Linked DNA regions of Homo sapiens: region 2 is linked to region 1. Evidence: fine-mapped expression QTL. Tissue or cell type: whole blood. Region 1 holds a variant in brackets; the other region holds the start of a gene. All regions are shown on one strand. Distances are between the middles of the regions.

Region 1 (5,215 bases):
TGGAGGAGAAAAGAGCTGGACCTTGCGCTAGTGAGAGCTAGTCCTAGTCATGACTCAGAAATAGGGTGCTTGGAAAAGGGGTGCCTTGCAGCCTCCTGTGTCCCAAGAGCAGCTATGCTGCCTCCCACCGTGGCTGACCACCCGTGTACACCACCCACCTGGGAGCAAATCCAGCTGCTGATTAGTTCCAAAGAGTCACTGCTTTGCCAAGCAGGCTAATCCTGAAATCTGACATAAGCCTCTAGCGGCTGCTTTATTTTCCAAAGGGCCCCTATTTGAGGATAATTCAGTCCCTTTGAGCTTTTCCCAGGTACCCTCAGCCTTCAATGGAGGCTGCATCATGCCAGTGGAGCTGGCACCTGCCCTGGGGGAGTCAAGGAAGGGCTGCCACTTGGAGGGAGCTCCGGAACATCTGACCTGAGGTGGCCAGGAGCAGACTGGCCATGAGTGACACCTCCTGAAATCACCTCTACCCCAAGACAGCTGGTCTGTCTATGAAGGCCCGGCTTGGGCCAGTCCCTCTGGGTTTGTTCAAGAAGGACACCTTTTATTCATTTCTCTGCCATCCAAACAGACTCTGAATTCTCTCTCTGGGGTTTGTGCCCCATCACAGGAGGTTGAGCCAGGAAGCAGGCAGGGTGTCCGGAGCTCCTTCCACAGCTGGCTCCAGGCAGGCATCCACCCCTGGGGGTGCTGTGCTGGACACCTCCATACTCACACAGGCTCTCTGGTAGTGCCAGGAGTTGTCCTGATCAGAGGTATCGCCTCTCTATCCCCACCCCTGCCCGGCCCTGCCCCAGGGCAAGAAGCCGCTGCTCATGAGCCTGCCTGGTTCTTCCTGTTCATTCTCATTCCCACCTCCAGACCTCTGCTGTCTGCTCCCTTCTTCAGAATTCTCTCCCCTATTCATGCCAGGCTCACCCTTCTGAAAAGACCCACCTTCCCAGGAGGCCTTCCCAGCCTGCTCTGGCCCAAGGGCTCACTCCCTTCTCTGGACTTCAACACCTTCTTTCCAGGCCTTTGCAATTATGTGGCCCCTGTCTGACTGGGCTGGGGGGTGTCCCTCATTGTAGGTGGAGGCACTGCTTTTCTGTGTCTTATGCCCACTTGCTCAGCCCCTGTGGCTGTCAGTAGACATCAGTACATACAGCCTTCCTGTACATTTGGAAACTACTTTCCTTGTGTTGTCTTATTTGATCCTTGTAAGAATCCCTGTGAGGATGGTAGAGCAAGTACAATCCCACTTTATAGAAGAGACTGAGGACCAGGGAGGAGGAGTGGCCTGAGGCTGCCTGATGGAGGAGTTGCAGGGTGAGGAACGGAAGCCAGTTCTCCTCCTGCAGTGCTGTGCTTCTGTGTACAGTTCCGTGCAGCAGTGCCAGTGACACTGTTACTCCTGCTTGTAGATGAGGAAGCCGAAGCTTGTAGAGACCAAGTGGGTGCTACAGGTCTTCTGCCTTCACTCACCTGATTCCAGCATGGCTGAGCGATAGACGTAGAGATGCCCGTTAGCACAAGGGAAAACCTCGCCGTGACACTGGAGTCTAGGTGCCCCAGCCAGGGGAACACACCCCAGAGAACCAGCCACATGCAGGCCAAGTCCTGTTCATCCTCACACTAGCTGTGGGTCTCAGGGCAAGGCCCTTTGCCTCTCTGCACCTCAGTATTCTCAGCTGTAAAACGGGGCTAATCTCTGCGACCACACAGTGTTTGGAGATTATTGAATGGGTTAATGAATGTGGAAATGTCTGGCCATCACGGGTGTTCAGCACAGAGCTGAGTGGGTGGAATGGATTGAATGAGTCTTCCACTGTGCATCTGGTCTCCAGAAATCAAGTTCTGGAGAATCAGTGGCCTGGCCTGTTTCTTGCCCTCAGTACCCAGGGATGGTCCTGAGTGACCGTAACACTGCCAGGGCTTTTTGCCCACCCACCAGTGGGAGATTAGAGGTCTGGGGTCATGACAGAGTCTTGGTGGGCCCTGGCCGAGGCCATCCTCAGCTCTCACTGGGTTCCGTCTGGCACCCGTGTGGCCCACAGCGGGGCACTGTGGGCGGGCCAAGCCTGTACCACCATGGCTCAGCGCCCCTGGTTATTCTTTCTCTGGCTGAACTTGCTTTGGATGAGGGCTCAGCTTCTAAGGGCCGATGTCCTGTTCCTTCCAACAAAGGCACTGTCACATACCATCCCCTCGAGGTCACTCGGCCTCCTGGGACTCCAGCGTCCTCATCTGCGTGATGGAAGCACAGTCATGCCTCCCCAGAGTGGCGTTTTGAGGATAAGATATGATAACGTGTCTGAAGTGCTGTACAGAGCGGGAACTCTGTACATAGTAGCTGGTGGTTATTTCTGAAGGGATTGGAGGGAAAGCCCCCTACAGAAGGCAGCGTGTGTCAAGTGGGGTCACCTGAAGAGCAACTCTCAGGAGGCTGCGTGGGGCCTGCCCTGTGCCTGCTTTGCTGTGGGTGGGAGGGAAGGAGAGCCCTGGCCTTCGTGTCTCCTCTGGGCAGGATGGGTGGAGGGGCCAGAGTGGAATGGGGCAGAGCAGGGCGGGGCCTTGACCTGGCCGAGGCTGGGCTCCCTGCCGCTGCCCAGCCCCGTGTGGGCACTGGCATTGCCTGGGGTCTTGTTCCTGTCACGGGGTGGCAGTGTTATGCTCAGGGTTCCTCCCTGTGGTTCCCTAGAGTTGAAGAGGACTTGGACCAGATTCTGAACCTGGGAGCTGAGCCCAAACCCAAGCCCCAGCTTAAGCCCAAGCCACCAGTGGCAGCTAAGCCGGTGATACCCAGAAAACCAGCTGTTCCCCCCAAAGCGGGCCCGGCTGAAGCTGTGGCTGGGCAGCAGAAGCCGCAGGAGCAGATCCAAGCCATGGA[C/T]GAGATGGACATCTTGCAGTACATCCAGGACCACGATACACCAGCCCAGGCCGCCCCCAGCCTCTTCTGACCCTTCCATGCTGGCCCCTGGCCCAGCAGGCCTGTCTGTGGGGACATCGGTGTGAAGGGAAGGGACTGGGCCCTGCAGGGTCAGAACCTCCCCACCCCCAGGGGAGGCCAGGCAGAAGCCTGGGTCACAGCACCCAGAACTGCATGGTTCCATTTTCTCCGGGGCTGTGGGGCCAAAGTAGAAGCCTGCGGGCTGCGGGAGCGGCTCTCACCCTAGGAGCCAGAGCCCAATGTGTCTTATTCCCCGTGGACATGAAGGGGAGGGAGGGTGTGGGGATGCCTTGCCAACCAGAAGCCCAGCCCCAAGGATGAAGCAAGACATGTGGGGCCGTAGCGAGGTGTCACATGGGGCAGGGAAGCTTCATGCCCACGGGTTCTGCCAGCCCCAGCACAGACCCAAACTGGGGCTGGGCCTCTATCCCTCCTCTGCCTCTGTTCGCATAGTAAGAAGGAGTGACCGGTATCCTCCCCTTCCCCTACCCTAAGCTGTAGCCTGGGTGACTGACTGGCCTGGGCCTGGGGTGGGGACGTCCCCAAGCCAAATTACTCCAGGGCCTCTGCTCCTCGTGGCTGCCAGGGGCCTGCAGGGTCTGGGTGGGTCTCCCAGGAGAGGAATACTGAGTGGGAGATCGGCTGTCTGGAGTGTTCTGATGCAAGTCTCTCTCTCCTGAGCCTCCTCTTGATGCAAGCTCTAAAGGGAGAAGTCAGGCCCTGCCTCTCCAGGGTATAGACGGCCCTGCTAGGCCCCAGTTCTTCCTCCTTCCCCCTTTCCCAGGAAAGGCCAGCCCAGTCCATGGCCTTCTTGGGCCTCTGGGCACAGAGCCAATGTTCGTCATTGCAGCTCTCAGCAAACTGGGTCATAGCTTTCCCCACAGCTCAGCCTGGGGCCTGGGCAGGGCTCCCAGCCTGCACCGCCTCCCACTGCCAGTGGGGCATGATTCTCTCAGGCTTCTGCCCCGAGGCCTTCGTCGTCCTCAGGGTCTGGACTTGGTCAGTGGCCTTTCACCAGTGGAGCTGCCTTCCCAGGGAGAAGGAGCCGTGCGCCAGGGCAGGGCCCGTGCCTTAGACTTCTCCCGACCCCCAGAGCGCTGGTACACAGGTCTAGGCACCACACAGTGCTTTGGAAATTCTCAGTGAATGATGTTTAATAAAGCAAAAAATGTCAAGGTGTCTTTCTTGGATATAATTCTTCATGTTCAGAGCTAGTTTTTTGTTTTGTTTTGTTTTGTTTTTTAATGAAACAGTAGTTTTAAAGGAAATGCAACCACTATTGCTCCTTGGCCCTGTCCTGCCTGGCAGAAGCATTGAGCGGGTGGGACTAGGACCTCAGACCCTTTTCTGATAGACACCAAAGCCAGCCCTGAGGGAGCCCCCGGCTGATGGTGCGGGTGGTTTGCAGCCATCAGTGTTGAGTGTCTCAGCTCCTGGCCCGTGCCAGGACCTGTCTGCTCTGTCCTGCATCTGATCACGTCCCTCTCCAGCTGTGGCGCCCTGTCCTGAGCAGCTTCCCCTCCACCAGTGCTAGAGTGAGAGGAAACAGGTGGTTTTGGGGTCGAGAGCTGACTCCCTCCTCCTCCGTCTTAACCCAGGCTCAGAGGGTCAGCTCCCTCCCCAGGGCTCTGAGCCAGCTCTGGGACAGCTCCAGCACCGGCTCCACCCATTTGCCTTCCCCCTTCACACCCGCCCCTCCTTCCCAGCACTCAGCCCCGGGCCCTGCATCCCTTGCTGACTGCAGCGGAAGGTCTCAGTAGGAGTGGGGAGGGGATGGGGCCAGGTCTTCCTCCGAGAGGTGGCTCCAGCTCTCCTCTGGGCTTTGTCCCCTCCCTGCCCTTTCTGCACCCTGATGCTGGCTCCCTGCCTCCTGCTCCCCACCTGCTTTGGGTCAAGTGACATAGGAGCAGAGGGCACAGCGGGGTAGGTGGCCACAGGGGCTGGTGCTCTGCTTGGGGTCACTGGCAGAACCTGGCCTGCCCGTTGTGTATTCATCCACTGTGGACGCCACCTCCTCAGTGGTCTGGACTCTCTGGACACCATCACAAAGACCCCCAGATATTGATGCTCCAGTATCTGTGGCTTGTTCTTCACCCACAGGACTGCGACTCATGGCCAATCAATGATCCTTGTCGCCTGATAAAGCCTGTGCCTGTGACCCATTCCAGCCTGTGTTAGTGATGTTCTTTTCTGTGCCTAGGCTGATGGCAGACCACCAGGGAGGGGAGAGGGGGAGAGGATTGTCCTTTAAAACAATGGACTCAGCCAGGGAAGCTGCCCTGC
Region 2 (5,215 bases), 32 kb before region 1:
TTGTATGCCCAACCCTAGGCTGAGTTAGTTATGTGCCCTCCTCTGTGCACCATAGCACCCTAGGCGTGCATCCTTGTTGAAATCTCCAGCTGTCCTAGAGTGGCCTGTGAGCCCCTGCAGTGGGCTGTGAGCCCCACAGGATAAGGCTCTGTAGCCCCCAGGCCTGGGGAGATAACAGGCCTGGAGCTGTACCTATGAGTGTTTGCTGAGTGACAAGCAAGGTGGTGGCCCTGCTCCATGTGGATGTGCCCAGACCCTGGAGCTCTAAAGTATCACATTAGGGAACAGAGACAAATTATAAGGTCCCAGAAGACCCGAGCCACCATGGGAAACGTTGGTGCATGGCTCAGCCAGAGTTCAGAGCACCCCCTGCAGGCTGCGGGTGTCTCTCAGTGACCACAGTGTCCTGAGGCCCAGTGACTTCCTGGGTGGAAACTGAGGCCTGGAGTGTTCCTCCCAGGGCAGTGAGAAAGAGAGAAATAGAAAATCCTTTGCAATGTGGTTTGTGTTACCGCAGCTTCAGCCATGGAAGGGGCTCCTTGAATTAAACAGGAAGCAGAAAATATCAGATTTAGATCCCACATTCCATGCATTGTATACAATTACGCGCTGGAGCCATAGAGGGGCACGTGGGACCCACAGAGGCAGAAAATGGGATTGCTGTTGGGAATGGGGTCGTTCTTTCATGGGAAACCAGTTGCATTCTTGACAGGTGGGCCGAGTCTTCCTGAGGTGCACACTTCACAACCCCAGGGGCACAGGTGAGGCCCTCTCATTTGCTTACAAGGCATTGGTGACAGACATGCTACCAGCTCCCACAATGATGGAGAGTCCCCTTCTCTGCAGCCCCCCAACACCGCTGCATATCTCTGGATTGTAGACCATCCTTGGTGGGCTCACCCCAACTCTCAGGCTCAACAGCCTCCTTTTTACCCATGACTCCTATGTCAGTCTCCAGCCCAGGTCGGCTTCCTGAGGCCCAGGGCCATAAACCCAATCGCATCAATAGGTCCAGCCCTTCAAACACTGCCTGTCTGAAACAGAACCCATCATCCTACCAAAAATATGCTCCTTCTCCAGGTGCCCTGCCACAGAGAATGATACCAATGTCCAGCCACTCACAAGAGCCAAACCATAGTGGTATCTTATCTCTTCCCGCCCACACCCATTGGATTCCCAAGTCTTGACCAACTCCTTCTCCTAAGGCCCTCTTACCCGTCCCCTCTTCTCCACCTGGGTGGCCATCACCCTAGTTCATGGGACCATTGTCTCTTGTCTGGATTGTTCTGCAGTCCAGCTCATCTTCATACCTTCAACATGCTCCAAAACCCTGCCCACGCCCTAGCTGGCCCAGCCACTCCTATGTCCCTGACCCTCTGATGGCGCTGTGTTGGCCTCAGGATCAGGCAAAGCCCTGGCCTTGGTGCACTAGGCTGTCCACACCCTGGCTCCTGCTGGCCTCTTCCCCCTGTTCCCTGGTGTTCCTATCCTGTCGCTAGGGCTTTGCACGTGACATTCCTTCTAATCTATTCTATCCATATTTCTTCAGGTTTTCCCTTGGACTTCAGCTCCTTTAGAAAGCCTTTCCAGACCCCCACCCACTCCCCATGTAGGAGGGCAAAGAAGTCCACTGAAGGCATCTAAAGTGTCTTATTCACTGTGTTTCTGTCTGTTGGATAAATGTGAGTGCAATGGTGACTGCTCGACTGCCTGGCACTACACTCAGACTCCTGGAATGCTGAAGCCTATACTGCTTTCTGTCCAGACCCTGAACTCCCTTTCTCTAAAGTAGGGCATGCCAATTTAAACAAAACACGGAGGACCATTTGCAGCCATGAACACGGCCCTGCAGACGGACAGGCCGATGAGCAGCAGAGCAGACAGGGGTTCCCGCCATCATCCCAGCTCTTCACTGCAGCCTTCAAGGGTCTCCCTCAGAACTTTCATTCATTGTCATACTTCATTCATGATTGCTCATCTTGCCTATAAACAAATCTGAGACAAATAATAAGGCATATCAATGTCCGTATTTATTCAAGAGATACATTGGGGAAAGTCATTTTTCAAAATCTTTTACTGTAGGATTTCTTCACTAAAATCTGTAAAAACTGGTAGATATTGTTGGTGATGCTGGTGGCGGTGGTTGATAGGCTCAGGAAACATGGCTGACATCGCCCTGCCGTGAATTCTGGTATAGTTAAGCCCAGCTTCTCTTTCTTTTTGTCACTGGGGCTCTGGGTGGAGGGAGTAACAGAACAGGGGCAGCAGTTTGCACCTTCTGCTGGCCCTGTTTGCAGACTCAGCTTTTCTTTCCCTGGGCTACGTTGGCAGGTGATACGATCTCTCTGTTCCTCACCCCATGGAGAGGTGAATCTAAAATGAGTGGGTCTGTTAGGGTCTGCATGTCTGTACGTTCCCCTTCTGAGGGGAACTGGCTCCTGGACCCCGTTGCCCTGCTCCAGCTGGGGACCCAAGTGCAGCCATCCCAGGCAGGCCCGGCCCCGGGAGGCCTCCACCAGGGCTCTGCCAAGCAGCAGAGGCTGCCTCTCTAAAGATCCCCTGTCGGGAGAGTGCCTGCCATTTATGGAGCGGGCAGGCAGTAGGAACCAGATAGGCGAGCTAGCTGGAGGCAGCAAGCTCAAGGGGACTGGGCTGCTGCGTGGCGTTCACTGTGCAGCTTGAAGAAGACCCCACGAAGCCTGGACAGAGCCCCAGCTTGGTAAATATTTGTTGACCGATCGGTTGAATGAAATGGTCTTGGGGCAGAGGGGGAGTGGTTTTGTAATGGGGACTGGCGGCGGAAACAGCAGAGTCCCGTCTCTCTAACGGCTAAACTTTAGCGCAAAACAGACACACCGATTAAGGTTCACCGTGTGCCAGGGCCAGGCTGGGCTTCTTCTAGGTGGTTGCGGCGGGCGCGGCTCAGCCTGGGTGCTCCGGAAGCTCCGAGCAGCGCAGGCCGACGGCGACCGTGCGGGACCCGCCCAGCCGCGCTTCCGCCCCGCCTCTGGCCACAGGCGCGAACTGCGCGGCCGCTGCCACCAGGGGGCAGGCCAGGGCAGCGGGAGGCAGGGCGGGGACGCGGTGACGCGGGCACTGCCGGGTCCCGTGACTGCGCGCCCCGCCCGGAGTCCCCGCCGCCGTCATGCAGTCCCCGGCGGTGCTCGTCACCTCCAGGTGAGCCAGACCCCCGCGCCCCACACCGCACAGCTCGCAGTCCGGGGCGCCCGGGCGGAGAGGCGGGGGGAGGCCGCCGCCTCCTAGGCCAGGGACCTGGTGCAGGTCTCCCCAGCGCCCTCGGTGGCTTATCCGGGCTGGGCCCCTGCACCGCCCTGCAGGAGAGGTGGCGACCCCGATTTACAGATGAGGAAACCGAGGCCCTCTGGAGGGTAGAGAACTAGCCAAGGACAGCGGGAGCCCTGGGACTGACTGGTTCAGTGCAGGCGGGCGCAGTGGGGACTCTGCTCTCCTTTCCTACCGCCTTGGGTTCTTCTCTTTTGAGCCCGAAAATCTAGTTCCCCATCCTTTCAGAGCTCCCTGAGTCCCAGGCCCGGTGCTGGGCACTGGGGACAGAGGCGAATCAGACAAGCTCGCCCTGCAGGGGGCTGCAGCGGAGAGGGGGTGATGCCAGCAGCGGGTAGTAAGCTCAGGTTGCCATGGGAACACAGTACAGGGCAGGAACCCGGTTTCTGGGAGGATGAGTTTGATGAGAGACCAGGGAGAGGTCGTTGCTGCTTGCGAGGCAGCTCAGGAGAGCGCAAGTTACAGCAAAAGCCTTGGAGGGGTCCAGGCGGAGGATGCAGAATGGGTCGGCCCTGATCGAGACCTGGAGGACCCAGCCCAAGGTGGATCCTGGCAAGGCTGGGAGGCACGTGCTTTTACTTCTTTCCGCCTTTAAAACGCTGTAAAGTGATTTACTTCAAATATTTTCATACACTTCACCCTTGCTCTCCCTACACAAAGTCTTAGGCTAAGATGCCAATTTATGACATAAATGAACGTGTTACCCAGCCAACTGTTGATCTTCCAGTTGTAATCAGGAATTCCCCGTGACTTCAGGTCTAGAAAGGTATGATTCCTTTTGTAAACCCTGATGTCGGAGGCTGCTTGGTCTTTCATGATCAAGTGTGGTTACAGTTGTATCTTCATGGGCAGAAGAGGTTTCCCTACTGCCACTTACGTCACCTCCTCTCACCAAGCCTCAGTTTCCTTTTCTGTGAATTGGAGGTTTCAGATTGGCAGGCATGAGCAACGTCAGTAGTATATGCCCCTCAGCCATGTGCAGATGGATGGGGTGTGACTTTGGTGCTGGGTGCTTGGGATGGGGTGGGTGGCTTCCCTCCCTGCCCCGCTGCACAGCCTGGACGTGGCTTGTTAACAGATGTGGGGGCGCTGGCGGTGGTAAGGCCACATGAGTCAGGCTCATTTCTTGCTGAGGGCACCAGCACACCCAAGGATCTTGCCTGCAGGGTGAGTCCAAACGCCTTAGCCCAGCAGCAAGGCCGGCCCTTCCCAGTCGCACCCCAGCTCCTCTTTCCAGCCCGATCTCCTCCCACATGTCATTGCCACATGCACTCAAGCTTGAATTCAGCCAGAAGGTGTTTATCGAGAGCCTTCTCTGTACCGGGTACTGGCCCTAGTTCTAGGAGACAAACAAGTCCCTCTCGTAGAGCTTTAATGAGGGCACAGGCCCAGTGGGCAAATCTACGACATGTCAGGGATGATACATGCTATGAAGGAAAACAAAACAGTGGGGGCAACAGAGTGGTAGGAGGCATGCATGCTGTTTTCTATGGTGTGGTAAAGAGGCATCTTTCTGATGGAGTGGCGCCTGGACAGATCCCGGACAAGCTCCATGAGGGAGAGAGCCATGAAAAAGAAATCTTGGAAAAGTGTGTACTGGGAGGACAGGACAGCAGGAGCCAGGGTCCCGAGGCTGGTATGCTGGAGTGGAGTGAGCCCAGGGAGAGTGTTAGGTGATGCGGTGAAGAGGCAAGCTTGGGAGTGAAGGATGATCAGGAAAGGCCGAGAAGGCTGTGGAGGGGCCATCAGATTTAATTTCAAGTGCAATAGGGCCCAACTTCTGGTTTATAGAGATCCTTTGGCTGCTATGCTGAGCATGGGCAGTGGCCGAGCTGAGCATTCAGGACAGGCTTGTAGGTTTCCATGTAGAGCCGGTGGTGGCTTGGCCCGGGGTGATGGCGGCCGTGAGGGT

Evidence for each region. PIP is the estimated chance that this variant, and not a neighbour inherited with it, causes the effect.
Region 2: HS1BP3 starts here. The variant in region 1 is fine-mapped to the expression of HS1BP3 in whole blood (TOPMed, PIP above 0.99).

What each region holds. Positions count from the first base shown.
Region 1 is chr2:20,616,714-20,621,928 of GRCh38, reverse strand. HS1BP3 (HCLS1 binding protein 3) reads left to right here. Exons shown (of 7, transcript NM_022460.4): 7 at 2,684-4,111. The coding sequence ends at 2,942. Among named protein-coding and RNA genes, the nearest start is that of HS1BP3-IT1, 27 kb to the right of the region's middle. RefSeq lists enhancers at 3,721-3,830, 4,215-5,106. The variant C/T (reference allele first, on the strand shown) is at 2,873.
Region 2 is chr2:20,648,994-20,654,208 of GRCh38, reverse strand. It overlaps HS1BP3 (HCLS1 binding protein 3), which reads left to right and starts at 3,111. Exons shown (of 7, transcript NM_022460.4): 1 at 3,111-3,177. The coding sequence starts at 3,146. LOC105373466 (a long non-coding RNA gene) reads right to left here and starts at 2,927. Exons shown (of 2, transcript XR_001739320.2): 1 at 2,857-2,927; 2 at 2,009-2,234. RefSeq lists enhancers at 2,693-3,430, 3,515-3,664, 3,685-3,764 and a silencer at 2,845-3,434.